3 separate regions of the Homo sapiens genome follow, and regions 2 and 3 are each reported to be linked to region 1. The links are microRNA targets in miRTarBase. Many come from high-throughput screens and were not tested one by one. Region 1 holds a microRNA gene; each other region holds the end of a gene's coding sequence. Distances are from middle to middle.
The links. Region 1 holds the annotated microRNA hsa-miR-6798-5p (CCAGGGGGAUGGGCGAGCUUGGG, at 5,602-5,624, shown strand). A microRNA usually pairs through its seed, bases 2 to 8, with sites in the 3' UTR of a target mRNA and lowers its output. Matches are read on the target gene's strand: a 7mer-m8 pairs with bases 2 to 8, a 7mer-A1 pairs with bases 2 to 7 and ends in A, and an 8mer does both.

Region 2: the mRNA of COLGALT1 is a reported target of hsa-miR-6798-5p. Seed matches in the 3' UTR shown: 7mer-m8 at 4,914-4,920.
Region 3: the mRNA of CALML3 is a reported target of hsa-miR-6798-5p. Seed matches in the 3' UTR shown: 7mer-m8 at 7,516-7,522 and 7mer-m8 at 6,583-6,589.

The regions. Positions count from the first base shown.
Region 1 is chr19:49,004,310-49,014,860 of GRCh38, forward strand. MIR6798 (microRNA 6798) reads left to right here and starts at 5,597; the gene lies at 5,597-5,663. RUVBL2 (RuvB like AAA ATPase 2) reads left to right here. Exons shown (of 15, transcript NM_006666.3): 4 at 1-109; 5 at 2,709-2,838; 6 at 2,993-3,059; 7 at 5,467-5,573; 8 at 5,664-5,757; 9 at 6,179-6,302; 10 at 6,690-6,784; 11 at 6,883-7,001; 12 at 10,175-10,294. RefSeq lists enhancers at 19-518, 5,131-5,632 and a silencer at 7,455-7,629.
Region 2 is chr19:17,577,902-17,588,452 of GRCh38, forward strand. It overlaps COLGALT1 (collagen beta(1-O)galactosyltransferase 1), which reads left to right. Exons shown (of 12, transcript NM_024656.4): 9 at 56-188; 10 at 1,581-1,708; 11 at 2,798-3,004; 12 at 3,276-5,256. The coding sequence ends at 3,543. Among named protein-coding and RNA genes, the nearest start is that of COLGALT1, 28 kb to the left of the region's middle. RefSeq lists enhancers at 1,995-2,204, 2,039-2,333.
Region 3 is chr10:5,522,585-5,533,135 of GRCh38, reverse strand. CALML3 (calmodulin like 3) reads right to left here and starts at 8,175. Exons shown (of 1, transcript NM_005185.4): 1 at 6,365-8,175. The coding sequence starts at 8,050. The coding sequence ends at 7,601. It overlaps CALML3-AS1 (CALML3 antisense RNA 1), which reads left to right and starts at 6,890. Exons shown (of 3, transcript NR_120497.1): 1 at 6,890-7,003. RefSeq lists enhancers at 6,470-7,170, 7,171-7,870.

The DNA of each region.
Region 1 (10,551 bases):
CGGCGGGCGGCTGGCGTGGTGCTGGAGATGATCCGGGAAGGGAAGATTGCCGGTCGGGCAGTCCTTATTGCTGGCCAGCCGGGCACGGGGAAGACGGCCATCGCCATGGGTAAGAAACCTCCCAGGGCAGGAACTCTCCTGTTTCCTGCTAAATAACTCCTCCTGTGTAAGTCAGGGTCAGGATGAGCCGCCTTTAACAGATGACCCAAAATGGCAGTGGCTTAAACACTCAGGATTCATTCTTGCCCATGGAAGAATCTAGAGGTAGGCCATTTGGGGCTTATTAAGCAGTTCCAGGAAGTCTTCCATCTTCCTGCCTCACCATCCTCTGCACTTGGTTCCAGTCAAGAGGACGCCATGTTCCAAGAGGGCTGCCAGAGCTCCAGCCTTCCCACTCATAACCCAGGCAGCAGGAAGAAAGGAGTTGCCATGAGGATGAACCCCCTCGAGTTGGCTTCCTTTAAACAGTCATTGGAAATCCTCCATGCTTCTGCTTATATCTCATTATCTCATTGACTAGAATGTAATCATATGATCACACTCTGCTTCAGGGGAGGCTGGCACATTAAATGTTTTTTAAAATTTCATAATTTGGACCATTTTTGCCTTAAGAAAATGAGGATTCTTCTGTTGGGCAAAAGGTTGTTGTAAAAATAAAAAATTAAAAAAAAAAAAACAGGAAAGAAAATGAGGGTTCTAGAACTAAGGAAGAAGGGGAAGGTGGGTATTGAGGAGTCACCCAGCAGTCTTTGTTGCAGTCCGCTAGTGGTTTATGATCTTTTCACTCCCAGCTGTTCCTCTTCTTCCTTGTTGAACTCCTATTTATCCTTCAAAACCCTACTTCAGCATCTCTGCCCCATTGAAGCTTTTCCTAACCCACTGCTCTTCCCACTCACTCCCACCTCTGTGCTGAGGCTGGGGCCAGGCAGGGAGAATCAGAGTAACAGCCAGGTCTTCAGTGAAGATAAAGCAGTGCCTGTTGGGGTGCTCGGACTGGACACTGGGGACCCATAGATGAGTTAGACCAAGGCCTGACTTCAAAGAGCTCCTGGTCTGGAGGAGGTGGTCATGGACACGATCCCTTCCAAGGCGACATGTGTTACAATGCAGGTAGCATGTGACAGAGGAGGCTCCTGACCTTGGTAGGAAAACGGGGCATGTGGTGGCATTTGTTGCTAGAGGCTTCCAGAGAAGCGGATACCTGAGCTAAGCCTAGTAGGATGGCCAGGAGGCTCCTGGGCGGACACTGGGGACAGCATGTCCAGGCCCAGAATGTGGCACACACAGTAACTTCCTTCCCTCCATCCTTTCTGCTTTCCTACTCTTCTTCATTTTTTTTTTTTTTTGAGACAGTTTCACTCTGTCGCTCAGGCTGGAGTGCAGTGGTGTGATCTTCGCTCACTGCAACCTCTGCCTCCTGGGTTCAAGTGATCCTCCTGCCTCAACCTCCCAAGTAGCTGGGATTACAGATGTGTGCCACCACACCCAACTGATTTTTGTATTTTTAGTAGAAATGGGATTTCACCATGTTGACCAGGCTGGTCCCGAACTCCTGACCTCAGGTGATCCACCCCCCTGCCTCGGCCTCCCAAAGTGCTGGGATTACAGGCGGGAGCCTGTAGACTTTATTTTTTAGGCATGTTGTGACTGTGCCCGGCCTCGCCTTTCCTCTTCTTGTGTCTCCCGCAGGCCTCCTGCAGGCCAAACCCTGTGCTGGGCAGCACTGGGGTGAGGCTAGCCTCGCCCTGGCGGGGACGCTTCTTAGTCTAGTGAAAGAGGCAGAGAGGACCCCTGGTGTCCCCAGATGGCATGGGCCGTGCTCGTCCACTCAGCCCTCAGCAGATACTTGCTGAGTTCTGTGATGAGGGCCATTGTGTATCCGCAAAGAGGACTAAGAACAGGTCCCACTTGACACTGGGCAGGAGGGTGTGGTGTCAGCCTGTCTGAAAGGGCGTGCCCCACATTGGACCAAACCTTGTGGCCAGGGAACTGGAAGGAAAGGTCTGGCGTTCAGAGCTATTGCTGGAGACAGACCTGCTTCCTGCCAGCCACCCCAGGCCACCGGCGGTAGAGCGTCCTGCCCTGTGCCAGTTTCAGGCTGCGCAACCGTGTTACTGCTGAGCACCAGTGCCTGCCTGCCTGCCTGCCCATAGTCACTCCTAAGCAGGGTGTCATCCCATGCTGGCACGTGTTCTGTTATCATCCCCATTAGACAGAGGGGGAGACTGAGGCTCAGGGAGCAGTTCAGATCGCTCAAGATCCCACGGCGCCACCTGCACTTAAGTGGTGGATCTGGGATGGGAGCCGAGGCAGTCTGCCTTCATCACTTGTAGCTATCGTGTGGGCTCCTTGGCCTTCGTCCCTGGTCCCCTTCGTCCAGCTCTGAGGCTAAACAGCTCGTAGAGGCTGGGAGACTGAGGTGTGGCGAGGTTCTAGGGTGTACCCTCTGGGCAATGTGGGATTCTAAGCCAGGCCTGCCGGAGCAACCTGCCCTGCCTGGCTTCTCACTCACTGTCTGCCTCATGGCTGAACCCCGCTCTCCAGTTCCCCCTCCCCAGCGCTCTGCTCAGCTCGGAGCCAAGTCCTTACATGTAGGATGGCACTGAACCCTCTTTCCTGGGGTGGGAGAAAAGCTAGTTTGCCACAGAGCAGGTGTCGGGGACCTGGTGCCAGAGCGGCTTCACCTACACAGACTGCCTCCTTCCCAGGCATGGCGCAGGCCCTGGGCCCTGACACGCCATTCACAGCCATCGCCGGCAGTGAAATCTTCTCCCTGGAGATGAGCAAGACCGAGGCGCTGACGCAGGCCTTCCGGCGGTCCATCGGCGTTCGCATCAAGTAAGCGGGGGACCCGAGGCGGGTGCCAGACCCCAGAGCCTGGGAGCAACCCCGCACCCCGGGCGGCTCGTCCTTTGTCCCAGAGCTCATGGAAGGTTGTGATTCCCGAGGGTCCAGGTGTCAGGCTGTCTCCTCAGATCTGCTCTCTGGCTAGGGAGGAGACGGAGATCATCGAAGGGGAGGTGGTGGAGATCCAGATTGATCGACCAGCAACAGGGACGGTGAGTCTGTGTGAGTCTGTACCCTGCTGAGGCCACCTCCAGCGCCAGGGTTGGAGAGAGTAGATATCAGGTCTGCACTGAGGTCAGAATCCCATGGAATGTTCTAGCTGCAGACTAGAGCCATGTACATGCCTACAGTAGGAGGTCAGTTAACTTGACAATGGCTTATCCCCTTATGAAGGACATTATGGGCAATAGAAACTGAGGCGGTAAAATAATGAGAGAGATCTGTTAGTGAGTTCCCAACAGACCTCAAAACCCAACAGACTTCAAAACTCGTTCCGTGGCCGAAAGGCATGTCCTGTCCATCTTACATGATACAGGTGATTTGCTCTCTCTTTTTTTTTTGTTTTCGAGACAGAGTCTCCCTCTGTCCCCCAGACTGGAATGCAGTGGTGCAATCTCGGCTCACTGCAACCTCTGCCTCCCAGGTTCAAGTGATTCTTCTGCCTCAGCCTTCCGAGTAGCTGAGATTACAGGTGTGTGCATGCCACCACGCCCGGCTAATTTTTGTACTTTCAGTAGAGACGGGGTTTCACCATGTTGGCCAGGCTGGTCTTGAACTCCTGACCTCGTGATCTGCCCACCTTGGCCTCCCAAAGTGCTGGGATTACAGCCGTGAGCCACCATACCTGGCCTCTTTTTTTTTTTTTTTTTTTTTTTTTACAATTTCTGTTTTCTCCTTTTTGCATAGCTGTGTTTTCTGATTTTGTGATCAACAAAAACACTTTTTATTTGGGTATAAAATAGGAATGTCAAAGTGTGACATTTGGCAATTTTGCGAGACCTCGGGCCTATGTTGTTTTTGATAGACTTTATTTTTTAGGCATGTTGTTTGTTTACTATTTTTATTTTTTATTTTTATTTTATTTTATTATAATTTTTTTTTTGAGATGGAGTCTTGCTCTGTTGCCCAGGCTGGAGTGCAGTGGCACAATCTCAGCTCACGGCAAGCTCTGCCTCCCGGGTTCATGCCATTCTCCTGCCTCAGCCTCCCGAGTAGCTGGGACTACAGGCACCTGCCACCACGCCCGGCTAATTTTTTGTATTTTTAGTAGAGACGGGGTTTCACTGTGGTCTCGATCTCCTGACCTTGTGATCTGCCCGCCTCGGCCTCCCAAAGTGCTGGGATTACAGGTGTGAGCCACTGCACCCTGCCTGTTTACTATTTTTATTAAGAGCTTTATTGAGTTTTGGCCAGGCGCAGTGGCTCACACCTGTAATCCCAGCACTTTGGGAGGCTGAGGTGGGCGATCACTTGAGATCAGGAGTTCGAAACGAGCCTGACTAACATGGTGAAACCCTGTCTATACTAAAAATACAAAATGGCTGGGCGCGGTGGTTCATGCCTATAATCCCAGCACTTTGGGAGGCCGAGGCGGGTGGATCACCTGAAGTCAGGAGTTCAAGACCAGCCTGACCAACATGGTGAAACCCTGTCTCTACTAAAAATACAAAAAATTAGCTGGGCGTGGTGGTGGGTGCTTGTAATCCCAGCTACTTGGGAGGCTAAGGCAGGAGAATCGCTTGAATCTGGGAGGCAGAAGTTGCAGTAAGCCGAGATCACACCATTGCACTCCAGCCTGGGCAACAAGAGCGAAACTCCATCTCAAAAATAAATAAATAATAAAAACACAAAACAATTAGCTGGGTATGGTGGCACACATCTGTAATCCCAGCTACTTGGGAGGCTGAGGCAGGAGAACTACTTGAACCCGGGAGATGGAGGTTGGAGTGAGCTGAGATCACACCACTGCACTCCAGCCTGGGCGACAGAGCAAGACTCTATCTCAAAAAAAAAAAAAAAAAAAAAAAAAAAAAAAAAAAAGAGCTTTATTCACCAGGCGCAGTAGCTCACTCCTGTAATCCCAGCACTTTGGGAGGCCGAGGTGGGCAGATCACAAGGTCAGGAGATCGAGACCATCCTGGCTATCACAGTGAAACCCCATCTCTACTAAAAATACAAAAATTAGCCATGCGTGGTGGCGGGCGCCTGTAGTCCCAGCTACTCGGGAGGCTGAGGCAGGAGAATGGCGTGAACCCGGGAGGCAGAGCTTGCAGTGAGCCGAGATCATGCTACTACACTCCAGCGTGGGCGACAGAGCAAGACTCCGTCTCAAAAAAAAAAAGAACTTTATTGAGTTTTAATTGACATACAGAAAGCTGTACACATTGCAAGTGTCCAGTATGGTCCGTTGGGACATACATGTTCAGCCGCGGAGCCATCACCGCGTCAGGCTGGTGAGCGCACCGTATGTCTTCCCTGGAGAGCTTCCTTGTGTTGTGCCCATTTTGAAGCTGTGGAAGCAGAGGCCAGAGCAGAGCCAGAAGCTTATCAACACTGGGGGCACTGGGGCAACATCAGGGCCCTCTCTGAGCCCCATCCCTGGCTTGTCCCCACTCTCAGGGCTCCAAGGTGGGCAAACTGACCCTCAAGACCACAGAGATGGAGACCATCTACGACCTGGGCACCAAGATGATTGAGTCCCTGACCAAGGACAAGGTCCAGGCCGGGTGAGCAGTCAGGGGCCATGCCAGGCAGCCAGGGGGATGGGCGAGCTTGGGCCCATTCCTTTCCTTACCCTACCCCCCATCCCCCTGTAGGGACGTGATCACCATCGACAAGGCGACGGGCAAGATCTCCAAGCTGGGCCGCTCCTTCACACGCGCCCGCGACTACGACGCTATGGGCTCCCAGGTGCGGCCGGGACTCCCGGGATCCCCTCGCCCCCAGCACTGGGGTGTTTTCATCTCCTCCATCACCCCCTTGACCCATGGGGTCTGGATCTTCCTGTTACCCTGACTGTTTGTCCTGGTACTCCTGGGTCTTCCCTGTAACCCTAGGACAGCAGGGCCCCTCAGCCTGGCACTATAGCTTCGCATGGCCACATGTGGCCTGTGGCTTCTAAGGTCCTCCGGGAGCCCCCGTGACCCTCAGCGCTCTGGAATGTCCCTAGTCCTGACTACCTCCTGGGCCTGGGGTTTCCAGATGACCCCATTTAGCCTCCCAGCTCCATTTCCTGGAGCTCCAGTCTCCCCCAGACAGAGGGCTTTAGGGGCCCCCTTCATGCCCTTCCCTGCCCTGTCTCCGCCGTTCTTCCCCCACCCCCGCCCCATAGACCAAGTTCGTGCAGTGCCCAGATGGGGAGCTCCAGAAACGCAAGGAGGTGGTGCACACCGTGTCCCTGCACGAGATCGACGTCATCAACTCTCGCACCCAGGGCTTCCTGGCGCTCTTCTCAGGTGAGGCCCCTCCTGCCCTGCCCTGCCCTGCCCTGCCCCAGGCCTAGCAGCCTCCCTCGGGCTCCCTCTGTTCCTGAGCTCCGAGTGTGGCCCACCTGCTCCACGCTGTTTCCTGTAACTCCGGCCCGTGGCTGCCTCTGTTCTCCACCTGCAAGTCCGCTCCGTCCCCACCCCTGCTGGTGCTGTGATGGGTGTGGCCCTGCCCTCTCCCCTCCTGTGTTCTCTGCCTCTGTTCCTCCTCTTTGGGGATGTTTCAGGCTCCTCATCCCTCCTTGCTTTGCTCCCCTTCCTCCATCCCTGGCATCATCCTTCTCTGTCTTAGCCACACTCTGGCCCTGGAACCCGCCTCCTCTCTGGCTTCCCTGATGCAACCTGTGCCTCCCATAGGTGACACAGGGGAGATCAAGTCAGAAGTCCGTGAGCAGATCAATGCCAAGGTGGCTGAGTGGCGCGAGGAGGGCAAGGCGGAGATCATCCCTGGAGTGAGGACCCAGGACATGGCCGGGGCGGGTGGTGGGGTGGAGGTGGGCCGGGGAAGTGGGGACGCGGGTGGTGACTCTCACACACACCCCAATCCAAGGTGCTGTTCATCGACGAGGTCCACATGCTGGACATCGAGAGCTTCTCCTTCCTCAACCGGGCCCTGGAGAGTGACATGGCGCCTGTCCTGATCATGGCCACCAACCGTGGCATCACGCGGTGAGCCGGCTACAGGGGCCTCTGGGGAAAACAGGATGCTCTGGGCAGTGGGTGTGGTCAGAGGGTCAATGGGAGCCTGTGTTGACACCGGGTCAGGGAGGGACGCGTGACTGCAGTGTGCGCTCTTTGCTTACAAAAGGCGGGTGGGAGGCAGCTCTGCTTCCCGAGGAAGCCCAGAGACTGTGTTCTTGCTGCCTTTCTGTCTTGCTGCTCCTTTAGCCCCCAAGGCTGCAGTCTTCAAACTGCGTGCCGAGGCACCCCAGGGTGCTGCAGGAAACTCACAGGAGTGCTGTGGGATGTTTTCTAGTCTTGAGGGAAGCACAGTGACATCTGTTAGACATAACATAAACTACGATTGTTCAGTCACTTCGACCCAGCAACTCCATTAACAGAACTCTTAGCGTTGTGTTTGGCCTAAGGATGCCAGGGACAGATTCCCATGACACAGAGGGTACCGTGCTCTGCTGAAGCCTGGGAACCTCATCTCCCAGGTGTTGCCAGCACCCTGTGCACGGGGAACTCTTAATGTTGTGTTTGGCCTGAGGATGCCGGGGACAGATTCCTGTGACACAGAGGGTACTGTGCTGTGCTGAAGCCTGGGAACCTCGTCTCCCAGGTGTTGCCAGCACCCTGTGTAGCTGGGATTACGGGCACCTGCCACCATGCCCGCTGGCTGTCTTCTCCACCTCGCCACATTTTGGCCCGCAGGAAGCAGGGGGATGTGGAGGGCAGGCAGCCCCCATAGGCTGTGATCCACAGGCTGCACCCCAACCTTGCACCCCCATTCCATTGCCCGGCACTGCTTGGGCTCAGTGCTGTACCTGGTGGCAAAGAAGGCTGGGTACTGTCAGCTCCAGCCCTGCAGCCTTGGGCCCAGCTGAAACTGGGCGGTTGGGATGGGCATCACAAAAGGGAAGAAGCGGGCACCCTACAGAGGATGCTGGGCCGCTGGGCCTGGCTCTGTGTTTGGCTCTTTTAACTCCTTGGATCCGCAGAAGAAGCTCAGAAGGTAGATATCACCTCAGCCCCATTTTATAGGGCAGGACAGTGAGGCCCAGTGACTTGCCCAGGTCACAAGTCTAGAAGGTAGCAGGGCCGTAATTTGGTCTCTGGATGGCTGGACACTGGAAGAGACCCCCAGGGCTGATGGTGTTTTCACAGAAACTGCAGGTCAGGGCCTGGGGACTGCCCAGGGGCACCTCCTGTGGGAGGCAGCAGCTACGGGCAGCCCTGATTGTTCGTAGACTCTGTATCTGAGAATCTCGCTTGCTAAGATTTATTTGTAATCCCCAAATAAATATCTGCCCTGCTTTCGGCAACAAATTCAAGTCACCTGACACCCACTTTCCCAGCTGAGTGTGAACGAGGCAACACTGCCTGCTCCCTTAGCGCTCATGCTGTAAATAAGTGTCCTTGTTGTATTCTATTTAGTGCTACGTTTGTCACTTTTGTTCTTTGAGACAGGGTCTTGCTCTGTCGCCCAGGCTGGAGTGCAGAGGCACGATCATGGCACACTGCAGCCTCAGTGCCCACCACACACACACACACACACACACACACACACACACACACACCACCCCTGGGACTCAATCAGTCCTCTGGCCTCAGCCTCCTCATCAGCTGGGACCACGGGCATGCACCACTATGCCTAGCTAATTTCTGTTTTTGTTTTGAGACGGAGTCTAGCTCTGTCACCAGGCTGGAGTGCAGTGGCACGATCTCGGCTCACTGCAACCTCTGCCTTCTGGGTTCAAGCAGTTTTCCTGCCTCAGCCTCCTGAGTAGCTGGGATTATGGGCACCCGCCACCATGCCCAGCTAATTTTGGTATTTTTAGTAGAGACAGGGTTTCACCATATTGGCCAGGCTGGTCTCGAACTCCTGACCTCGTGATCTGCCCACCTCAGCCTCCCAAAGTGTTGAGATTACAGGGGTGAGTCACCGCGTCCGGCCTAATTTTTTTTTTTTTTTTGTAGAGATGGTGTTTTGCCATGTTGCCCAGGCTGGTCTCAAACTCCTGGGCTCAAGCAATCCACCCGCCTCAGCCTCCCAAAGTGTTGTCACTTTTTTTGTGCCTTTTTTTTTTAAACTTTTTGGGGCCATTTGTTGGTGATATTGCCATTTAAAGTGTCCCCTGTGCACAGTGTTGAAGTGCTGTCTAGTATCCTAAGTGCAAGGAGGCTGTGAAGCCTGACGGAGAAAATGCCATGTTACAGACGCTTCGCTGAGCCCAAGTTAGAATGCTGTTGACACGAGCTCCATGTTAGAGAATAAACAGTGATGTTACATAACAAACACATGGAAATAGAAACACACATACATGAGGCCAGGCGCGGTAGCTCACACCTGTAATCCCAGCACTTTGGGAGGCCGAGGTGGGTGGATCACGAGGTCAAGAGAATGAGACCGTCCCGGCCAACATGGTGAAACCCTGTCTGTATTAAAAATAGAAAAAACTAGCTGGGCGTGATGGCGTGCGCCTGTAGACCCAGCTACTTGGGAGGCTGAGGCAGGAGGATCGGTTGAACCCGGGAGGCGGAGGTTGCAGTGAGCCGAGATCGCGCCACTGCACTCCAGCCTCGCAACAGAGCGAGACTCCGTCTCAAAAAACAAACCAAAAAGACCAGAAACACACAAATGAAAATACGCATAGACCCAGATTATATATATATGGATTGATGAAAATACTGTAAGCCGAGGCTCGAGAGAGCCTAACCCTGTATTCCAGTAGGAGCAGTGGCTCAGGATCAGCTAATTGGAGTGTTCACGATGACTTTCTAGAACCTCACTACTGTGAATAAGGGGAACTGACTGTATCCCCTGGCACCAGCCCTGGGCTGGCCCCGCTGCAGCAGGGAACAAGACAGGTGCAGTCCCCTCCTTTGTGAAGCTTTGTGTCGAGCACGGGAGTGGGACCTTGATCCAGTAATCCTGGAGGCAGAGATCTAGCTTAAAGCAGCCCAGCTCCGCGGAAAGGTGCCCTTGGGGGACTGACGCAGCTGTGGAAGGCTGCGTCATCAGGGGTGATGTCATCATGTGACAGGAGACGCGAGCTAAAGGTTAAGTGGTGTTGGGCCCAGTGAGTGGGTGGCGATGGGAGGTGAGAGTGTTCCCAGCAAAGGGAATGAAGAGGGAACATGCCCCTGACAGCCCCCTCTTTCTGCCTCTTCCTCAGAATCCGGGGCACCAGCTACCAGAGCCCTCACGGCATCCCCATAGACCTGCTGGACCGGCTGCTTATCGTCTCCACCACCCCCTACAGCGAGAAAGACACGAAGCAGATCCTCCGCATCCGGTGCGGGCAGGACCAGGCCGTGCGCCTGAGACGCAGGGCTGGGGTCTACCCTGTTTGACAAATGCTGACACTGAGGTCCAGCGGAGTGGCATGGTGGCTGGGCCTACAGGAGAGAGGGCTGAGCGGGCACCCAGACGGTGGCCTCCGATCCGGGAGCAGGAGCCACGGTGGGAAAGGGAGGCGAGGTACCCGTGACTGGTGTTGGGGCCAGCGCCCTGGGGGTGGTCAGGAGGCCTCGGTTTTAGGTCCAGCCCAGC
Region 2 (10,551 bases), 31 Mb from region 1:
GCAGAATGGCAGGCAGGGTGAACCTTCTTCGTGACCCTCTCCTCCTCCTCTCCAGAGCCATGAACACCAGCCAGGTGGAGGCGCTGGGGATCCAGATGCTGCCTGGCTACCGGGACCCCTACCACGGCCGGCCCCTCACCAAGGGTGAGCTGGGCTGCTTCCTGAGCCACTACAACATCTGGAAGGAGGTGTGTCCTGAGTGATGGGCGGGGCCAGAGTTATGACTCTAGATCTCATCGGAGATTTGGACGGGAAAGGGGTTGAAAGAGTTCCCCAAAGCCCCGGCTAGGCATCCAGCCTCAGCCATGGGACCCATGGCCTCTCTTTAGTGAATGATGCGCCACACCAGCTGTATCACCCCCAGGTGTACCTGCCATCCTTCCATTGCGCAAATGTGGAAACTGAGCCTGGGGGTAGGGGTGAGCCCTTTTGAGCAGCAGGTGGTGTCTGGGGCCTGGGACCTGTAAACAAATCCTCATTACTCCCAGCCTGGTCTCTGTGCTTGATGTTTAGTACTAGAAGTCATGGCCACAGAGCCACTTTAAACCAGCACCTGCCCAGTGCTGCTGGGGGCACTCACCAGCCCAGGCATCCTCATCCACCCTCAGAGGGAGAGGCTGTGATTGGAGGAGGGTGTCTGACTAGGCTTCGAACTTGGGCCATCAGGGCCGGGCATGGTGGCGCACACCTGTGGTCCCAACTATTTGGGAGGCTAAAGTGGGAGAGTGGCTTGAGCCCAGGAGTTAAGGCTGCAGTCAGCCAAGATCGTGCCACTGCACTGCAGACTGGACAGCAGAGCAAAACCGTGTCTCAGAAAAAAGAAAAATGGCTGGGCGTGGTGGCTCATGCCTGTAATCTCAGCACTTTGGGAGGCCGAGGCAGGCGGATCACCTTAGGTCAGGAGTTCAAGACCAGCCTGGCCAACATGGTGAAACCTAGACTCTACTAAAAATACAAAAATTATCTGGGTGTGGTGGTGGGCACCTGTAATCCCTCTACTTGGGAGACTGAGGCAGGAGAATCACTTGAACCCAGGAGGCAGAGGTTGCAGTGGGCTGAAATCATGCCATTGCACTCCAGCCTGGGCGACAAGAGTGACACTCCATCTCAAAAAAAGAAAAATAAAATCCGGGCGTAGTGGCACATGCCTGTAATCCCAGCTGCTCAGGAGGCTGAGGCAGAATTACTTGAACCTGGGAGGCGGAGGTTGCAGTTGAGATCGTTCCACTGCACTCCAGCCTGGGCGACAGGGCGAGACTCCGTCTCAAAAAAAAAAAAAAAGAAAAAGAAAAGAAAAACTTGTTATCGAATGTGAAGCCAAATGGGGGTGTGCGGCTGCAAGGCGGGAGGTGCATGAGGCGTGGGCATTTGAGGGGCTGGGAGGCCTTTCTCTTCTGAGATCCATTATGGACGGCAGAGGGCAGAGGTTTGGATGTCCAGATGTCCCTGGAGCTAGGAGAGGCAGGGAGATGCACTGGCTTCTCTACGGGTCTTTCAAACCTTCTCAAAGCAAAGCTCTGTGCTTTAGGGTCAGGCCTGGCCTTGGCCTCCCTGTGATGTGGCGGGGCTTCCTCCCTCAGGTGGTGGACCGGGGGCTGCAGAAATCGCTTGTGTTTGAGGATGACCTGCGTTTTGAGATCTTCTTCAAGAGACGTCTGATGAACCTCATGCGGGATGTGGAGCGGGAGGGCCTGGACTGGGACCTCATGTGAGTGGGGGTCTGAGGATGGGGTGAAGCTGGGGCCTGGGGCAAGGCCAGGACTTAGAGGTGGGGGTGGGGGCAGGGTGGAGCTGGGACCTGGGGATGGGTCATGGCTTAGAGGCGGGGCTTGAAGGTGGGGTGGAACTGGAGCCTAGGTACATGGCCAGGGCTTAGAGGTGGGGCTGGGAGGCGGAGTGGAGCTGAATCCTACGGGCGTGGCCACAGCGCTGCAGCTGAGCCTAGAGCCTGTATGTCTGGGTGTGGTCAGGGTGGCAGGCGTGGCCAACCCTTGGAAGCGTAGCAGGAGGGCTCACGTGGTTCCTGGGCCTGAAGGCACTGTCAGGGCTGTAGCCTATAGGGAAGGGCGTTGGAAGGATCACCCAGAACTCAAGGGACCTGGCCGGAAGCCTGCAGGCTTGGTCAAGGCTTAGAGACTTGACTGAGGCCTGTGGAGGTGGATGTGGCTAAAATTTGACCGGGCAGCCTGTGGGCGTGGCTGAAGAGCATGGGGGTGTGGTCAGAGCTGGAGGTGTGGCCGAAGAGTGTGGGGGCGTGGCCAGGGCGCCTGGTCTTAGACAAGCCCCTGGATGGGAGTGCCACCAACATGTTTCCAGCACTGGAGCCGTCCTTCTCTTCTGTAAGTGGGCTGGTTTGTCCTCTCCCTTCCTCCATCTCTTTTTTCCCTTCCATGTGCAGTGCCCTAATCTGCATTCTGGGAACACTGCCCCATGTGAATAGTAACTGCACCCCTCCATTCCTGACTGCCCCCCCATCAGGGCACCTCGCCCACCTCCACCCCCACTGTCCTCTGAACTCAGAGCAGCTTCAGCCTCAGAGAACGTCTGCGTGATCCTGCTCTCCCCAGCTCCAGATCCTCCATGGCTCCCTCACGCCCTTTGGAAAAACTCACTCTTCTCCCCCATGACCGCCAGACCCCTGGGCTCCTGCATTCACTCCATCCAGTCACAGAGCTCTGCAAACATGCTGAGCCTGCTCCCATCCCAGGACCTGACGGGGTAACTAGATCCCTGGCTTTCTGGGCAAGCTCCCTCCGGAGGGCGGGAGGAGAGTGACAGGCCCGATCTTGCACCCCAGCTATGTGGGCCGGAAGCGGATGCAGGTGGAGCACCCCGAGAAGGCTGTGCCTCGCGTGAGGAACCTGGTGGAGGCCGACTATTCCTACTGGACCCTGGCCTACGTGATCTCCCTGCAAGGCGCCCGCAAACTGCTGGCTGCTGAGCCGCTCTCCAAGATGCTGCCTGTGGACGAGTTCCTGCCCGTCATGTTCGACAAACACCCAGTGTGAGAGGGGCAGGCGGCTGCTGGGCTGGGGTTTCACGGTGGGTCTGTCCTGGGAGAATGGGGATGTGAGACTCACGGCCTCCGAGAAGATGTCTCTTCTTTTGCCTACTTCTCCCTCCGTTTGCCCCCTCGCAGATCTGTCTCCATTTGTATCCCCTGCACACTTACGTTTTAATCTGTCCCCGCTGACTTCTTCACCCCCAATTTTTCCTCCAGCTGTCCCGTCCCCTGAAGCCATTGCTGCCCCTCACTCCCCTCCTCCTCCCCCCAGGTCCGAGTACAAGGCCCACTTCTCCCTCCGCAACCTGCATGCCTTCTCTGTGGAGCCGCTGCTCATCTACCCCACACACTACACAGGAGACGATGGCTATGTGAGTGACACCGAGACCTCAGTCGTATGGAACAATGAGCACGTCAAGACCGACTGGGACCGCGCCAAGTCCCAGAAGATGCGGGAGCAGCAGGCACTGAGCCGTGAGGCCAAGAACTCGGACGTGCTCCAGTCCCCACTGGACAGTGCTGCCCGGGATGAACTCTGAGGGGTAGCAGCCAGAAAGCCAAAGCAGCCATCGGTGGCCCAGGCTCCACGTGCTTACTGAGGACATCAGGTCCACCTCTGGACCCCTTGGCAGGCCACAGAGGGCTCTCGTGTGGGGTGGTGTCCAGCCAGCTCTTGCTAAGCAATCACGTGCACACAGGCAGCATTAATGGAGTGCCTACTGCATGCCAGCAACAGGGCTTGGCCCTGGGGAATTGGGAGGAACCAAGCCCTCTTCATCTGTTCATGTGCCCAGCATTTATTAAGCACCTGCTGTATGCAAGGTTCCCATGTTACGGCAGTGAATGAGGCATAATTGTTCCCTCCATCAGCGATTGATTCAGTCATCAAGCAGTTACTGATCAGATTAAGAATCAGGCACTAGTGATACACATTCATTTTTAAAATTCATTCAAGGATTTATTGAGTGCCTACTGTGTGTTGGGTGCCATTCCAGGCTCTGGGATTTTTTTTTTTTTTTTTTTAAGAGTAGAGTCTGTCTCTGTCACCCAGGCTGGAGTGCAGTGGTGTGACGGCTCACTGCAGCCTGCGCCTCCCAGCGTCCAGCAATTCTTGTTTCTCGGCCTCCCAAGTAGCTGGGACTATAGGTGCGTGCCATCACATCTGGCTAGTTTTTGTATTTTTAGTAGAGACGGGGTTTCACCATGTTGGCCAGGCTGGTCTCGAACTCCTGACCTCAAGTGATCTGCCCGCCTTGGCCACCCAAAGTGCTAGGGTTACAGGCATGAGCCACTGTGCCCAGCCCAGGCTCTGGGAATATTGAGATAAATAAGATGCTTCTATCCATTTATTCAAGCACATATTGGTCACCTACTGTGTGCCTGGCACTCATGTCACAAAGATAAGTTCCTGATTCGGTACACTTACTGAGCACCTGCTGTGTGCAGGGAGCTGAGCTATGGGATGGGAATGGGAGTAAACAAGGTACTTTTTACTTTTTTCTTTTTTTCCTCACTGCTAGACGGTGTGGGAACTTCTCACTCATTGGCTTCTTTCCCACACACCTGAAGAGCACTGACTGTGTGCCGGGCACTAGTGATACAAAAGAGTGTGACAGTTGTTCAGTCTGCATTTTCGATCATGGGCTACATGCCGAGTGCTGGGGCACAGAGATGAACAAGATCGGTTCCTTCACTTCTTCATGCCACAAGTGTTTATTGAGCACCTGTGTGCCAGGCCTCACAGACTCCCAGTTGGGTTGAAGAATGGTTGACTGAGTTTGATTCTTCCTGTACCCTCGGTCGTCTGAGCTGTGTGCAGACAACATCCCCCCACCACCCAAGAGGGAGGGTAGCTCTTCCGCCACCAGGGGCAAGCACAGGTCCTGGTGGCCCCACGCCACATGTTAGCCCCCCTGGAGGGGGCGCCAGTTGGAGACGGGGGCTGGGTGTCCCTGGCCCACTCCCGGTCCCCTGTGCTTTACCTCCTTGCCCTTGTGTCTCAGGTGTGGTCCCTGCCTGCTTGATGAAGTTGCTCTGTTCAAGCCTTTGGTGGGATCATGTGTTTGGGGGCTTTTAGGGGACCCAGCTGCACTGGGGCACTGCCCGTGGCCTGGGTAGGACATTTCCCAGCAAGGGCTGGAGGAGTTGCCGTGCCTTCAGCCTGAATCGAATGTCAGAACCAGCCAGCGGTGCTTCACCCTCTTGGGGATAACTTGCTTAGTTTTTTAATAAATGTTCCTGGTTGGTTTTCACAGCAGTTTGTGGGATTTTGCTCGGCACCAAAACACTGCCCACGTTCCCCACCCCTGGATGGCCGACAAGATTTGGGAGGAAACCAGGGCAGGTGCAGTAGGGAAGCTGCCCAGTGGGGCCTGGCATGGTGGCTCATGCCTGTAATCCCGGTGCTTTGGGAGGCTAAGGTGGGCGGATCACTTGAGGTCAGGAATTCAAGACCAGCCTGGCCAACATGGTGAAACCCCCTCTCTATTAAAAGTACAAAAATTAGCCTAGTGTAGTGGGGCGGGGTGGCGGGGGGGGGGTACCTGTAATCCTCGCTACTTGGGAGGCTGAGGCAGGAGAATCGCTTGAACCTGGGAGGTGGAGGTTGCAGTGACCCAAGATTGAGCCACTGCCCTCCAGCCTGGGCGGCAGAGCAAGACACAATCAAACCAAAAAAAAAAAAAAAAAGCTGGCCAGTGGAGCTACTGTGGGGTGAGGGTGTGGTAAGAGCCCTGTGTCCCCTCATGCCATAAAACTTCCCCCAAACAGGCGGGGGACCGACAGCTCTGTCTTGAGTCAACTTCAGGATCCTTCCACATGACTTCGAATAAAGAGGGGCTGTCGTGCTTTGAGTCCCCCTAAAACAGACCTCAACATGAGGATTAGGGCTGGGCATGGTGGTTCACGCCTGTAATCCCAGCACTTTGGGAGGCCAAGGTGGGTGGATCACCTGAGGTCAGGAGTTCGAGACCAGCCTGATCAATAAGATGAAATCCCGTCTCTACTAAAAATGCAAAAAGCAGCCAGGCATGGTGGTGTGTGACAGTAGTCCCAGCTACTTGGGAGGCTGAGGCAGGAGAATCGCTTGAACGCAGGAGGTGGAGGTTGCAGTGAGCTGAAATCTTGCCACTGCACTCCAGCCTGGGCAACAGAATGAGACTCCATCTCAAAAAAAAAAAAGGATTAGGCTGGGTGAGGTGGCTCACTCCTATAATCCCAATGCTTTGGGAGGTTGAGGAGGTGAGAGGATTGCTTGAGGTCAGGAGCTCAAGACCAGCTTGGGCAACAGAGTGAGACCCTCGTCTCTACAAAAAAAATTGAGAAATTAGTTGGGCATGGTAGGGCACACCTGTAATCTGGCTACTCAGGAGGCTGAAGCAGGAGTATCTCTTGAGTCTAGGAGGTTGAGGCTGCAGTGAACCATGATCACACCACTGCACTCCAGCCTGGGCAACAGAGCAAGACCCTGTTTCTATAAAACAAAACCAGAAAACTTCCCTGAAATAGCCCAGGGACAGGTGGCCAACTTCATTCTATCTTGGATCAACCACAGGATCGTCGCAGATGACTTCAAATGAGGAGGGGCTGTCATGGTTTGGGTCCCCTGAAACAGACTCCAAGATGAGGATTGAAGGGCACTTACGTTATCAGTGACCCCAGGAACTTGCTGTGGAGCAGTAGGGAAGTGAGACAAGAAGGGAAAGAGTGGTCCCACCCCAGGGAGAGGGGGCTGGACATTACAACATGCCCAGTTGCATTTGGATTTTCTGGGTCAAATGCTTACAAATCCTCTGGATTATTACACCTTTAGGGTGTGCAAGAATATACCCGAGACTTTTATAAACTAACACAGGGGCCAGGCGCGGTGGCTCACACCTGTAATCCCAGCACTTTGGGAGGCCGAGGCTGGTGGATCATGAGGTCAGGAGTTCGAGACCAGCCTGGCCAATATGGTGAAACCCCGTCTCTACTAAAAATACAGAAAAATTAGCTGGGCATGGTGGTGAGCGCCTGTAGTCCCAGCTACTTGGAGGCTGAGGCAGAAGAATCACTTGAACCTGGGAGGCGGAGGTTGTAGTGAGCCGAGATCACGCCACTGCACTCCAGCCTGGGCGACAGAGCAACACTCTTGTCTCAAAAAACAAAAAACAAACAACAACAAAAAACCCTAACACTGATGGTGTTCAATCAGTGTGGAAAAAATCAGAACTTACAGCTAAGCAAATTGACAAAGCAAAAATTAAATCACACCTTTTCAGACACAACTAACATTTTCAAAAACTTTCCAGCCTTCCTTATTTGCATGGTGTAAATATATATGCATTTTTTAAAAAAGGAGGACCATGTTACCTAAGCTACTGCAACTTGCCGTTTTATTTTTCGTGGAATGCACTTTTATTTTCTAAGCATGGGATCAAACTGTACCTATTTTTTAAAAAACAACTTTTATTTTTAAATTTAACAACTATTGTGGACCTCCTTTCCAAAATAGGGTTAACATCTACGAGCTCTTTTTGGATTGTTATGGAAAATATTCCCTGCTGTTTCCTGCAGTGGATAGCATTATACAATACATCTTTCCTACTGGATTTTTTGTTTTTTTGTGTTTTTTTGTTTGTTTTGTTTTGCTTTTTGAGACGGAGTCACACTCTGTCACCCAGGCTGGAGAGCAGTGATACGATCTTGACTCACTGCAACCTCCGCCTCCTGGGTTCAAGCAATTCTCCTGCCTCAGCCTCCTGAGTAATAGATTACAGGCGCCCGCACCACACCTGGAGAATTTTTGTATTTTTAGTAGAGATGGGGTTTCACCATGTTGGCCAGGCTGGTCTTGAACTCCTGACTACAAGTGATCCACCCGCCTTGGCTCCCAAAGTGCTGGGATTGCAGGCGTGAGCCACTGCACCTGGCTTCCTACTGGATTTTAAAATTTCAGTTGGGTAAATTGAGACAGGTGGGATTCCTGGATTAACCTGGATGTGCACTTCAGGTTTCAGTAGAGGCTATCATATTCCTTTTTCTTATTGAATCCTAACTATTCATCATCTATTGGCCAGAGTGAATTATCCATGTTTATTAAACAGTCCCTTCTGTGAAACATTTTTTTTTCTTTGAGGCAGAGTCTCACTCTGTCGCCCAGGCTGGAGTGTAGTGGCATGATCTTGGCTCACTGCAACCTCCGCCCCCACCCTGGGTTCAAACAATTTTCCTGCCTCAGCCTCCCTAGTAGCTGGGATTACAGACGCCTGCCACAATGCCCGGCTAGTTTTTGTACTTTTAGTAGAAACAGGGTTTCACCATGTTGGCCAGGCTGGTCTCAAACTTCTGACCTCAGGTGGTCCTCCCGCTTCGGCCTCCCAAAGTGCTGGGATTACAGGCATGAGCCACCGCACCCAGCCCCTTCTGTGAAAGATTTTTTTCTCATGCTTTGCAGGGAAGTTTCTAAATCTTATTTAACCCAGTGAGGCTCAACCAGGAGTAATTTTGTTCTTCAGGGGACATTTGGCAATGTCCCCTAAACATCCTACAATGCTAACACCATCCTACATTGTACATCCTATGCAGGAGGATGCAGCTAAATATCCTACAATGGCCAGGACGCCCCACCATACAGAACGTTCCAGTCCAGAATGTTCATAGTGCTGAGACTAAGAATTCCTGTACCCGGCCAGGTATGGTGGCTCGTGCTTGTAATCCCAGCACTTTGGGAGGTTGAGGCAGGCAGATCACTTGACCCTAGGAGTTTGAGACCAGCCTGGGCAAAACCCTGTCTCTACAAAAAAATAGAAACACTTAGCCATGTGTGTTGTCACGTGTCTGTGCCCCCCAGCCTCGGGAGGCTGAAATGGGAGGATTGCTGGAGCCTACGAGGTTGAGGCTACAGTGAGCAGTGATTGTACCACTGCACTCCAGCCTGGGCTACAGAGCGAGACCCTGTCTCGAAAAAATAAAAATAAAAAAAGAATCCCTGTACCCAATTCCTTTCAGCCTCTTGGGGACATGAGTCTTTAGAAGGATCTTCTCTGTGGTACGAAGTGAAGCTTCCTTTACTATGAAATTTATCTGAATAAAGCATAGATTCGCAGGCTCTGCTCACAGACTAAAGGATTAGAACTTGGAGGTAGCTGGGTGCAGTGGCTCACACCTGTAATCCCAGCAATTTGGGAGGCCGAGGCGGGAGGATCACCTGAGGTCAGGAGTTCGAGACCAGCCTGACCAACATGGCAAAACCCTGTCTCTACTAAAAATACAAAAAAATTAGCTGGGCGTGGTGACGCATGCCTGTAATCCCAGCTACTTAGGAGGCCGAGACAGGAGAATCGCTTGAACTGGGGAGGCAGAGGTTGCAGTGAGCCGAGATCGTGCCATTGCACTCCAGCCTGGGCGCAAAACTCCATCTAAAAAAAAAAAAAAAAGAACTTGGAGGTGATGCCTGGGAATTAAATTTTATTTTGAAGGCCCCCAAACAGTTATGTAACTCTGGTGTTGCTTTTGACCTCTGCACCTTCAGGAGAACCTCATCCTTCCTTCTGGAACTTTCTAAATACACACACACACAATGTATACTTTTCTTGTCTTTGTAAAAATTTTATTATTACTATTTTCTGAGACAGGGTCTCGTTCTGTTGCCTAGGCTGGAGTCCAATGGTGCAATCATGGTTCACTGCAGCCTCAAGCTCCCAGGCTTAAGTGATCTTCCCACCTCAGCCTCCTAAGTAGCCAGGACTACAGACATGAGCCACTATGCCCAGCTAATTTTTTATTTTTTGTAGAGATGACGGTCTTGCTATGTTGCCCATCCTGGTCTCGAGCTCCTGGGCTGCAGCAATCCTCCCCGCTCAGCTTATCAAAATGCTGGAATTACAGGCATGAGCCACTGCACCTGGCACCTTTATTTTATGAATGCTATTTTTAATTGTAAAGTGATTCTTATTCATGGGGACACCCTTCAGTTGGTCTATTGGCTATTAGTTCCCTATTGCTACTCTAACACATTTCCACAAACTTAGTCGCTTAAAACAACATCAATGTATTCTTGTATGGTTTTGAAGGCCAGAATTCTGAAATCAGTTTCACTGGGCTAATGTCAAATCAAGCTGAGGCTGGGTGCGGTTGCTCACGCCTATAATCCCAGCACTTTGGAAGGCTGAGGTGGGTGGGTCACTTGAGGTCAGCAGTTCGAGACCAGCCTGGCCAATATGGGGAAATCCCATCTCTACTAAAAATACAAAAATTAGCTGGGCATGGTGGCACACACCTGTAGTCCCAGCTACTTGGGAGGCTGAGGCAGGAGAATTGAGGAGAACCCGGGAGGCGGAGGTGGCAGTGAGCTGAGATAGGGGCCATTGCACTCCAGCCTGGGCAACAGAGCAAGACTCTGTCTCAAAAAAAAAAAAAAAAAAAAATCAAGCTGGGTGCAGTGGCACACACCTGTAATCCCAGCTACCCTGTAATCCCAGCTACTCGGGAGGCCGAGGCAGGAGAATCGTTTGAGCCCAGGAGTTCAAGATCAGCCTGGGTAACATAGTGAGACCCCCATCTCTAAA
Region 3 (10,551 bases), not on the chromosome of region 1:
CTCTCCCAGCCCTTGTGAGTGTCTCATCCTCGTCTGTTCACTGACCTCCCCTGTTATGTGTGAGTCTTTCTCTCTTGGCATCCCCTGAAGCTCACACACATGAGCACATGCCCGGCACTCAGCAGCATCGCAGAATGTGAGTCTGCATTGAGCCACTAGCTTTATTCTTACAAATGCTGTATTATTCAGAGCAGGGGGAAGTAGCTCTGGCCACAGGCACTGGTCCCATCTTCAAGGAGGACTCTGAGAAGCTGACACGTGTCCCAAGCTGAGCCACCACTGGGGGATAAGGGAGGAACCTTACCCACTGTCAGGTAAGAACCTCTGGACAGAGCCTGGAGAGGAGAGGAGGCCATGTGGAGCATGAAGGCACCTGCTGCTGCCGGAGGCACAAATACGTGGACACATGGAGAGGGGCTGCTGCTCTAGACTCTCACAAACATAGAGAGAATAAAGGGGCCAGTGGGGGCAGTTACATGGAGGCACCTTTCAGACCTGTTTAAGGAAAAGCTTTCCGGGGATAGCAATTTTCCAACCTTTGGGCAACTTGCCTTGACCTCCCTACCATGGTCGCATTCAAGGTCGTGCACACCTGCCATTGCTTACGATGTCATCACTCATAGGCCTCTCATCCTGCATGGGAAATTAGGCCAGATAACCTCTATGATGCTGTGCAAACCTAGGCGTCTACAAGCCCAAACGTTGATCTCAGCCTGACTCTCACCCAGCCTCGGGCCCTGCGGTACCACGTCTGTGCTGTCTTCATGCCCAGGTTGCATCCCAGGCGGTTACACCCTGTGCATGGCTGTGCCGCCTCCAAGGATCCTTCACTTCCTCAGCAGAACTGGGGTTGGGAGAGCAGGGGCTTTCCTGGGATGCTCCGCTGCTCCTCGGCAGGGCCAGACTTTGAATCCCACCCACGCATCTACGGTCTGGAAAGACACACCAGAATTTGTCAAAAGACAGTTTCCCATATTCAAGGGATTATTTCCCTCCTTCTCCTTCCTTTACCCTTGGATCCTCTCCAGAATCAAGTGGATCTGACTCCCTGCATCCCCCGGGGAGTCACTATGAAGTCAGAATTGGACTCAGACAAAGGACGGCTCTGGACCAAGTCCCCAGCAGCCCTTGTGGACCTTGGAGCAGGGAGAGAGGCCGTGAATACACCTGACCCCCTTACAGTGGATGCTTGGGGGCTGCCATAACAAAGCACCACAGATCAGATGCTTCAACCACAGGAAGGTCTCATCCACAGTCCTGGAGGCTGGAAGTCCAAGGTCAAGGTGTTGGCAGGGTGGGTTCCTTCCAGAGGACTCTGGGGAGGGGCTGTTCCAGGCCTCTCTCCTGGGCCTGTGGACAGCTGTCTTCTCCCTGTGTCGTCACACTGTCTTCCCTCTGGGCATGTGTGTCCACGTGTCCCACCCTGACAAGGTTATATTGGCTGAAGGCCCACTCTCATGACCTCGTTGTAGCTTGATTATCCCTGTAAAGACTTATCTCCAAATAAGGTCATGTTCTGAGGTCCTGGTTGGTAGGACTTCAACATATGAGTTTTTGGAGGCAGGGGGCACAATTCAACCATAGTAGGGTCATGTGGCTTTTTCTGACTGCCCATCACCTGCACCCCGAGATGTGAGTTTGGATGAGAAGCTGAGAAGCCCAACACCTCCCAGCTGCTCTGCAATAATGAATGGTGAAGGTTCGTGTAGCACTTTGGCTGCAGACAGATGCGCGTGTGTGGAGCAGGGAGCGGATTGGGACCTCCTGTCGCAAAGATGTGCCCACTGCAGGATTCCCTCTTGTTTTCTGGGACTGCAGCGGCCCCAGCACCTGCATGGGGTCCAGTGCTGGGCCAGAGGGGCAGTGAGACATCACGTCTCACGTGGCAAGTGGGCAGTCCACCAGCACTCCCTCTGCAGATGCCCACACCCAGACACAAGGGGTCCTGTGGCTCCTGGATATTCCTGGCATCGATCAATTCCTTTTCTTTTCTCTAGGTCCTCTCTGCCCAGACAAATTCTGCCTGACAGCTGTTTCCCACTTCCAGGCCTTTCCTACCGAGATCTCTCCAGCACTCACCGCCTCTGTGAGCTCAGCGCCTCTCGGTTTCAGGCTCCTTGCTCTAAGAACTCCTCTCTGGCACAGTGGGAATAGTGTGAGCTTTGGGGTCGGTCAAACCCAGGGTCAAACTCTGATTCACTAGATGTATGGCCTTGGATAAGTTATTCAAAGTCTCAAAGTCTTCGTCTTTTCTTCTCTGAAACAGGCTAAAACAAGCTACTGCACTGACTTGTTTGGAGGATTAAAGGAGCTAATGAAATGCAAGACAGGTGCCTCCCGACAGTGTGCCCCAGTGAAGGCTGAGCTTCTATCATGGGGGGCCTTCAGACCAGAGTCTTCAGGTGTGCAGTAGGCTATAGGTGAGACTGGTTTGGCTAGTGATGACAGGAGATGAATTTCACCATGGGCCAGCAGGGCCACATGTGGTCAGTCTTCAGGAAGTCACTCCCTGGATGTTCAGCTCCCCAAGGTGTGCAGGGCCACCCAGTTGGCTCTCTGAGGCCTAGGCCCACCTGCTATTCACCCTTCAGATGTTCCCCTCCTTATGTTCCCTAAGAGCCTGGCTCCTTTCCCCTCCCGGGTAGTTCGCACACACTACAAGACGTGAAAGACCTGAAGAAGGTGTTTAGGGGACTGCATGTGGTTCCTTCTGTTATTATTCCGATAGGTACTTTCTCCTCCAATTATGGAAACCCTGCCATTGTTTCTAGGTCTATTTAAAGCTTCTCACTTCCCTGCACTTTGAGGAAGGTGCTTGTCCCACCCAGTACTCAGCACCCAGCCTTGTCCCTGTTAGAAAGGGCTCAGAGGAGGCCTTTCCCAGGCACTTCCCTTTCTTGCCCAGTCCAGACCCCTGAGAACCTGTTGCTATGGAAATGACTACCAGAAAAGCAAGATGGTGAGGAGATTGACACATGGTTTGGGGCCAGACCTTTCTCAGAGGTGGTTTTTGGTCTTGTTTTACTTTATGTAGCTTTGTTTTTTGGTGGAGAAACACAACTCATATTCCCCATTGCTACCATTCTTCATGGAGCAGTCTCACCCCATACACGAGTTTTGATACCACATTTCTCTAGCGGAAGCCGTGGGTCATTTTTAGCTGGCTGGTTCTGGGAGCCTTTGAACAGGCCTTTGGAATCTTTGAGGATAAACAGGAGCCGGCAGGGCTGGGCTGCATTCGATTTAAAATTGGAAACACGGGAGTCAGAGGCGAGCTTTATATAGTCTGGGAGTGCAGGAGCCCCAAGTCCTGATTTATGAGGGAGCTCAGTAAAGCACATGGAAGCCAAGGTAATATTTATAAATTCCTTTCCCCTAGGATGGCTGGAATGTTGTTTTGAGCTGCAGTCAGATTGCACCTTTTTGGGGGCTGAGGGCAGGTTGTTTAAATTAGGTTATTCAATGACTGAAAAGAAAGGGATATGCCAGTTGGGCAACTGCCTCTAAGTCTCTGCCACAGAAAAACACAGGGTGGAAGAAAGCTCCACCCGCAGGGCTGGGTCCCTCTGGAGAACCCTGTTTGCCCATTTGGGTGGCTCCTTCCTCCTGCTCCAGCCCCCAGGCCTCCCCTTGCCTATGTCCAACAGGCGAGCACCCACCCCTGGCAGCTGGAGTGACCACATTTTACCAACAAAAAAGTTTACCTTGACATCTGGGTTTGGGGCAGGCTCTTTGGAAGTGCTGACCAGGGTGGGAAAAAGGAAGGGAAAATAAGATAAGGGGAGATGGGGAGGAAGCTAAAGACAGGCCCAGGTGTGACCTAGGTAGACCTGGATCCCGAGGCTGTTGTGTGAGAGGACACACTCACTGCCGTGGGTGAACTGAGTCAGAGTAGCTGATGCCATGCCGTGGAGGTCAGCAATGCTAGCCCGGTGAGAGATGCATTCATACTGTGGGTTTGGGGTCTGCTGGTGAGGGCAGGGGGTTCCCTGGGCATCACGCCCCGTGAGGCAGAAGGAGCCGTGCCAGAGAGCACTGTCAGAGCTGCGTCCCCCTCTGGCCTGGTCTTCCTTACCCCAACACAGAAGGTTGGGAGGGGGCAGAGCCATGTGGCAGCAGACGGTGCTCACTGTGGTGAGGGCAGTGACCCAGCTTCAAGGAGAAGGGCAGACAGAAGATGTTACTGAACAATCATATTCAGGGCCGGGCACGGTGGCTTGTGCCTGTAATCCCAGCACTTTGGGAGGCCAAGGCAGGAGGATCACTTCAGGCTAGGAGTTTGGGTAAGACTGGGCAACATAGAGACCTCACCCCTCCAATTTTTTTTTTTTAATTAGTGGGTCATGGTGGCACGCGTCAGTCCCAGCTACTCTAGAGGTCGAGGTGGGATGATCACTTGAGCTCGGGAGGTTGAGGTGGGACCATCACTTGAGCTTGGGAGGTTGAAGCTGCAGTGAGCTATGATTGCACCACTGCACTCCAGCCTAGGTGACAGAGCAAGATCCTATCTCAAAAAAAAAAAAAATGTGTTTAAACACCAAGGGGGAGGGGAGGGGTCATTCACCTTTGCCACAGGACGCACTTTGACCTTGCTGCCTCTGGCTTCTGTCTGTATAAAGAAGACACCTCCGGCCAGGCGCGGTCGCTCATGCCTGTAATCCCAGCAATTTGGGAGGTTGAGGCGGGCGGATCACGAGGTCAGGAGATCGAGACCATCCTGGCTAACACGGTGAAACCCCATCTCTACTAAAAACATAAAAAGTTAGCCGGGCGTGGTGGTGGGTGCCTGTAGTCCCAGCTACTCGGGAGGCTGAGGCAGGAGAATGGCGTGAACCAGGGAGGCAGAGGTTGCAGTGAGCTGGGATCACGCCACTGCACTCCAGCCTGGGGATCAGAGCCAGACTCTGTCTCAAAAAAAAAAAAAAAAAAAAAGACACCTCCACTTACTACTCTGCTTCTGAGGACTCCCCCTCAGGGAGGATCTGGGGCTGCCAGTTCTAAGCTGAGAGCAGGTAGGACCTTTCCACCACCCCAGCCAGTGCCTGCCTGAGCACAAAGAGCTCTTGATGAAAGGCTCCCAGCACCTGCAAAATCCAGGCCCAGGTGGCTCCAGAATGACTGGTGTGTGGGGTTGCAAAAAGACCTGCCCTGGCGGAATCGCTGGGAGGCTGGGAGGAAGACAAATAAAGACACTGGCGTGCCCTCCTGGCCCAGGCATTGGCAGTGCGTAGGTCCCAACCCTTGTAAGAGCCTCAAGCCTGCACCTGGGAAGAAGGGGCTTAGATGTCAAACCTCAGCCACGTGTATGACAGTGACTACAAAGATGCCCTGTGCAGGGAGACCTTGGTTTCTCTCCTTCCTGCAGAATTTAGGAGACATTCTACAAAAGGTACTCAGGCCTGATGTACTATTCCTTTTGCCTGGCGGTCAGCAGCCATGTGGGGGCTTCTGCCTGCCCCTCCTGCTCACAGCCCCCCACCCCCTGGGGTGCTGCTGCCCAATGAACTCTAGACACTCTGTCCATGTGTTTATGAGGCTTGTTCCCAAATCTTCCCCAGGACGTGTCCAATCAACCCCGACTCCTGAGAGTGGCAGGGAGGGGTGGGGATTTGCTCAGCAAGCTGAGCCTTAGCTTGCCCTCTGCTTCTGTTCCCCTGACAGGAGTACCTGCAGTTACACCGGCCCTGGGCCAGTGCTCACCTGACACCCCACCATCCAGCATCCCCTCAGGAATCCAGCCCCAGAGCACCTGCTTCTGCCCCTTTCTGCTCTTGTCTTGTTCTCGAGCTATGGAGAGGGGTGACTACCCTGGACAGTCTTGCAGTATTAGAGCAGGAAGGGATCTTGAAGGTGATGGTAACAGTAGCTGCCATTATTAAGCACCTACTACATGCCAGGTGTGTTAAGAATGTTGTTCTGGCTCCTCACAAGTGCTGGAGAGAGGCGCTACCGTAGTTACCATGATGGAGGCACAGGTTGGTGTCAGACCTGTAGCTGAGTGGTCAGGGCACAGACCTGACTGAAATCCCAGGTCTGCCTCTTACCCACTGGTGGGACCCAGGGCTGCTTTCTAAAGCCCTCTGTGTCTCCACTTCCTCGTTTGTAAGATGAGGAAGGTAATAATAGTGGCTGCCCCATAGGGAGGTGCCAATTGTCTATGCAGGCCAAGTGCTTGATGGTGCCCTGAGCCCAAGCAGGTGGCATGAGGGTCCTGTCATCCTGGAGGTCCCAGTGGTGCAGTGATGATGGCAAGGCCGGGGCTGGGGCCCAGCTCTTTGTTTTACAAAGGAGGAAACACTGGGTGTTGGTGGGCGGGGGTGGGGTGTCAGGGAGAGAGGATACATCCACCATGGCCTTTTCTGATGAGCTCCGTCTAGTGCCCATCCCGCAAAACATACCTCCCTTTAGAATTGAAGGGATCTCTGGCAGGGCCCCTTCGACCTTCTCTAGGTGTTGCCAGCAGCTTGCAGGGCTAGTGCAGGACTAACGGCTCTGAATTGCTCTTACACTGTGTGTGCCCAACTGCCCCCCAACCCCTCACCATCTCTAGTGCCTGGCACTTCACAACCAGGGAGCACTTGCCAGGGGGAATCAAAGCAATCAGCAGGTCCCTTCTCAACGTAATGGACTCAGGTCTTTCAAGTCCTGATGGACTTTTAACCACTCTTTGCTGCCAGCGTATCCATTTGATTGAGAATATTCAATATTTCCCTCATCCAGACTTGTCTCTCTCTGAGGCACCTTTCCCGCTCCCCCGTATAGGAATTCATTGCATTTTCAAAAAGCACAAAAATGGAGATTCCTGCCTCGTTTCAACCCTGAATTTAACAAGGATCATTTCCATGGAAACCAAAAAAAAAAAGGAAATGAAATAAGGACGAATATCTCATTTATTTCCCTGCAGCTCTCATCCCCTGCTCATCCAAGCCTCCCTCCTTCCAGATGAATAGGAACAGGTTACAGCTGACCCAGTTTCACTCCCAGCTTCAGAAGATGAATCACGGTGGGTTGGCGGACAAGGAATGGGGCAAGCTGGGGCAGCGCGGAAGGCAGTGCTGTTTTCAGGAGGCCTGACCTCTGTGGCCAGAGTCCCCGTCAGCACCGCTTACTGCAGGCCAAGATGCCTCCCACCCTCCAGAATCCGACCGCGGAGGGAGCTTCCAGTCCAGGAGCCTGCGGGAATCCTGGCGGGGGCTGAGGGCTGCAGCCCCCCTGGCCTGGGCATTGGGTGCCTCTTAGGGATCTTGCCTGGGTGCCCTAAGGGGTCACCCGGTGTCCGTCCTGGAGGGCCGCAGAGTCAGCGCAACCTGCCCTGGTGCTCGGTCCTAAGGTCAGCTCTGCTTCTCCCGAGTGGGGAGGGCGTCACGGTTTGCCTGCAGTGGGAGCGTTCCGTGTCATTCAGACGAGCAGGTGGGAAGGTCGGCAGGAGTGCAGAGAAGAGACGCGGGAAGCGGGATGCAGAGAGGTGGGCTGAATCAACCAGGCGCAGGAGGAAGCCACAGTGCCCAGGGGAGGCAGGGGGATGGGGGAGGAGGCGGGAGGCCCCGGGTTCTTGCCCTGTGGGCCGCGTGGGCGCCCAGGAGCATGGTGGGCGCCGGCCTCACTTGGACACCAGCACACGGACAAACTCCTCGTAGTTCACCTGTCCGTCTCCGTCCGTGTCCGCGGCCCGGATCATCTCGTCCACCTCCTCGTCACTCAGCTTCTCCCCCAGCCGGGTCATGACGTGTCGCAGCTCGGCGGCGCTGACGAAGCCGTTGCCGTCCTTGTCGAACACGCGGAAGGCCTCGCGGATCTCCTCCTCGTTGTCCGTGTCCTTCATCTTCCTGGCCATCATGCCCAGGAACTCGGGGAAGTCCACGGTGCCGTTGCCGTCCCGGTCGATCTCACTCATCATGTCCCGCAGCTCGGCCTCCGTGGGGTTCTGGCCCAGGGACCGCATGACCGTGCCCAGCTCGCGGGTGGTGATGCAGCCGTCCCCATCCTTGTCAAACAGGGAGAAGGCCTCCTTGAATTCTGTGACCTGCTCCTCAGTCAGCTGGTCGGCCATGCCAGGGGTGGGGGCGTGGGTGGCAGAAGAGGCCACTGTGGGGTCTCCCTCCCAGTGCCGCAGCCCGGCTGCTGTCCCAGCTCTGGGGTGGCAGGTGGAGATCCGGGCGGCCGGCGGGCTGTCTCGCCCTGGCTTGAGACGCTGGAGCTTAAGAAGCAGCAGAGTCCTCCCCCATCATTGGCAGACGCCCCTGCCCTGCGGTTGCCCGGGCCTGTCCTGTTTAGACAGGAGTCCAGGGCCTGCGAATCGAGCTGACGCCAGCACCTCTGTGCCTGCTTGCACCTGGACCCAGCAGAGCCACGGGGGCCCCGAATCACACCTGCAGTCAGGGCGTGGTGGGTGAGCTTTGGAGCAATCCACGCTGGACTCCTTCCTCCTGAATTTCCCTTTCTCTCCTCCCTCCCCGTCTCCCACCTGCCGCCTGTCTCCCACTCAATAAACTCCAGTGCCCTTTCTTCCCTTGAGTGGAGGGCTTTTTGCAGGATGAAAGGCAGATGAAAGAAACGTCCTTGCCTTTGGTTTCTAAAGCCTCATATAGAACAGGAGGGTTTTTGGAGGAGGAAGGTTTTCCCTTCAGGTAGAAGCAGCGAGTTTTCTTATCTTCAGAATGGACATGAATAGGGAGGGGTTTCCTCCAACCCATTCACTCATCCACCCTTTCACAGATATTTGAGTGCCTACTAGGTGCAGTGTCACTCTGGAAGCTGGGAACACAGTGGGACCGGCAAGCCACCCCCAGTCCTCGTGAGGTTAACTAGCAAGACAGCTAGTTTGCAGGTCAACTGATCGAGGAATGCAAACAAGGTGACTAGGGATTATTGATAAATGCTGATGGACATACAAGGTGGTGATGGACAGGACCCCGAGGTCACCTTTCAGCCTGGTCAAGGACAGACCTCCTGCTGAGAAGCAGCTGTCTAGGCCGGAGTGGCCATGGCAGGGCCAAGGGCTGGAAGATGATCAGTGGGGCTGCAGGCCTGTGAGGGAGGGGACAAGGAGGAGAGACAAAGGAGACCTTGAAGGGCTCAGCCAGGAAGTCCCACTATCATTCTCTGGTCCACATTGCCCCAGGAGCTCCGGGCAGCATGGAGCTGGGGCTGTGGAGCGGCCTCTCCCAGAGGAGACCCGCTTAGGGGGATAGTGGGGTGTTCACAGCACAGACTCGGCTCCCACTCCCAGGGGGCCTGGAGACATGACCCCCAGAGAGGCAGGAGCAGGCGCTTCACCTGTGGGAATCCAAGAAATCCACACTGGGGGAGAAACATGGAGCCCACTCTATTTTTTGCTGGGTGTGTGGGGGTGGGGTAGAGACCGGAAAGGGAAAGAAAGTGTCCTTTTGAGGACCTGGACTTGCCGAGGAGAGACTATGGCAGGAGAAGGGCTCGGATATTCATTTTTTTTCTCTCTGATTTTCCTTCCCTTCTCTATTCAAGTAGAGGCAAGTGTGTCCTTCTGGTCTGGAGGGGGTCTGTGGTAGGGGGAAAATTGAAGCCACCTGCAAGACACCTTCCTTCCTACCTGAGGGCTCCCACAAAGCCTGTGTCCTGAGGGTTTGGGCAGGAGGAAGCAGGAAGGTTGAAGAATCCCTCCATCCCCATGGAATCTTTTCCTTAGAAGAGAAGTTTGTGGACCCCAGAGCAGCAGGGCTCAGGGATGTGGTGGCCACAGGCAGCCTTGGCAAAGAGCCCTGGGGCCCAGGGGTGGCGTGGAGGGAACGAGGTGATGGGCATCTTGGAAGCCACGTGTGTGGGTGACACTTTGGTGACCAGATCCCACCCTCCCCTCCTTTCTCACCCCAGAATATTCGGCCTTGCCTGAGACCTCACACCCCAACAGCTCTAGGGGAGTGGGGAGATGGGCTGGCCAGGACTCCCTGGGGTAGGAGAGGGGCTGATAATAAAGTTTAGATTTAGAGAGAAAAATGAGGCAGCATCTCCATTTGCAGGCTGGGAGCATGCCCTGGGCCCAGGTTACAGCTCTGTCCACAGGGGGCTGCGCAAGAAAGAGTGTGTGCTTTGCTCCTGGGAGCCCCGCCCTTCCTCGAATATTCTGGAGATCTCTTTTGTGGTGGGGAGACCCAGCAAAGGCTGCACACACAGCTTGCTCAAGGTCACCCCATGAAAAGTTCAGCTGGGGATCAAGGTCCCTTTTTTATTTTGGGGTTTTTTGGGGGCTAATTCTGGGACATGGGGACCTTCTGTCACCTTCTGAGAAGGGCTCTTGATTGTACACTGGTGCCTGATGCCTGAGTGTTAGAATTCATATCCCAAACGCACTTTAAAAATATTTAAATATCTCCGCTCTAGATCACCCGAATACCCAAAAATAGCAGGTTAGTAACAAATACCTGAAATTTCCTCCACACCATGAAATAATACACAGCCTTTAAAATGAGGATGAGGATATAACAATGGAAAGGTTTCCATGGAAAATTTTTAAAAAGCAGATAGAAAACTGTATATGTGATATGATTTCATGTATTAAACATTTATATATGTTTA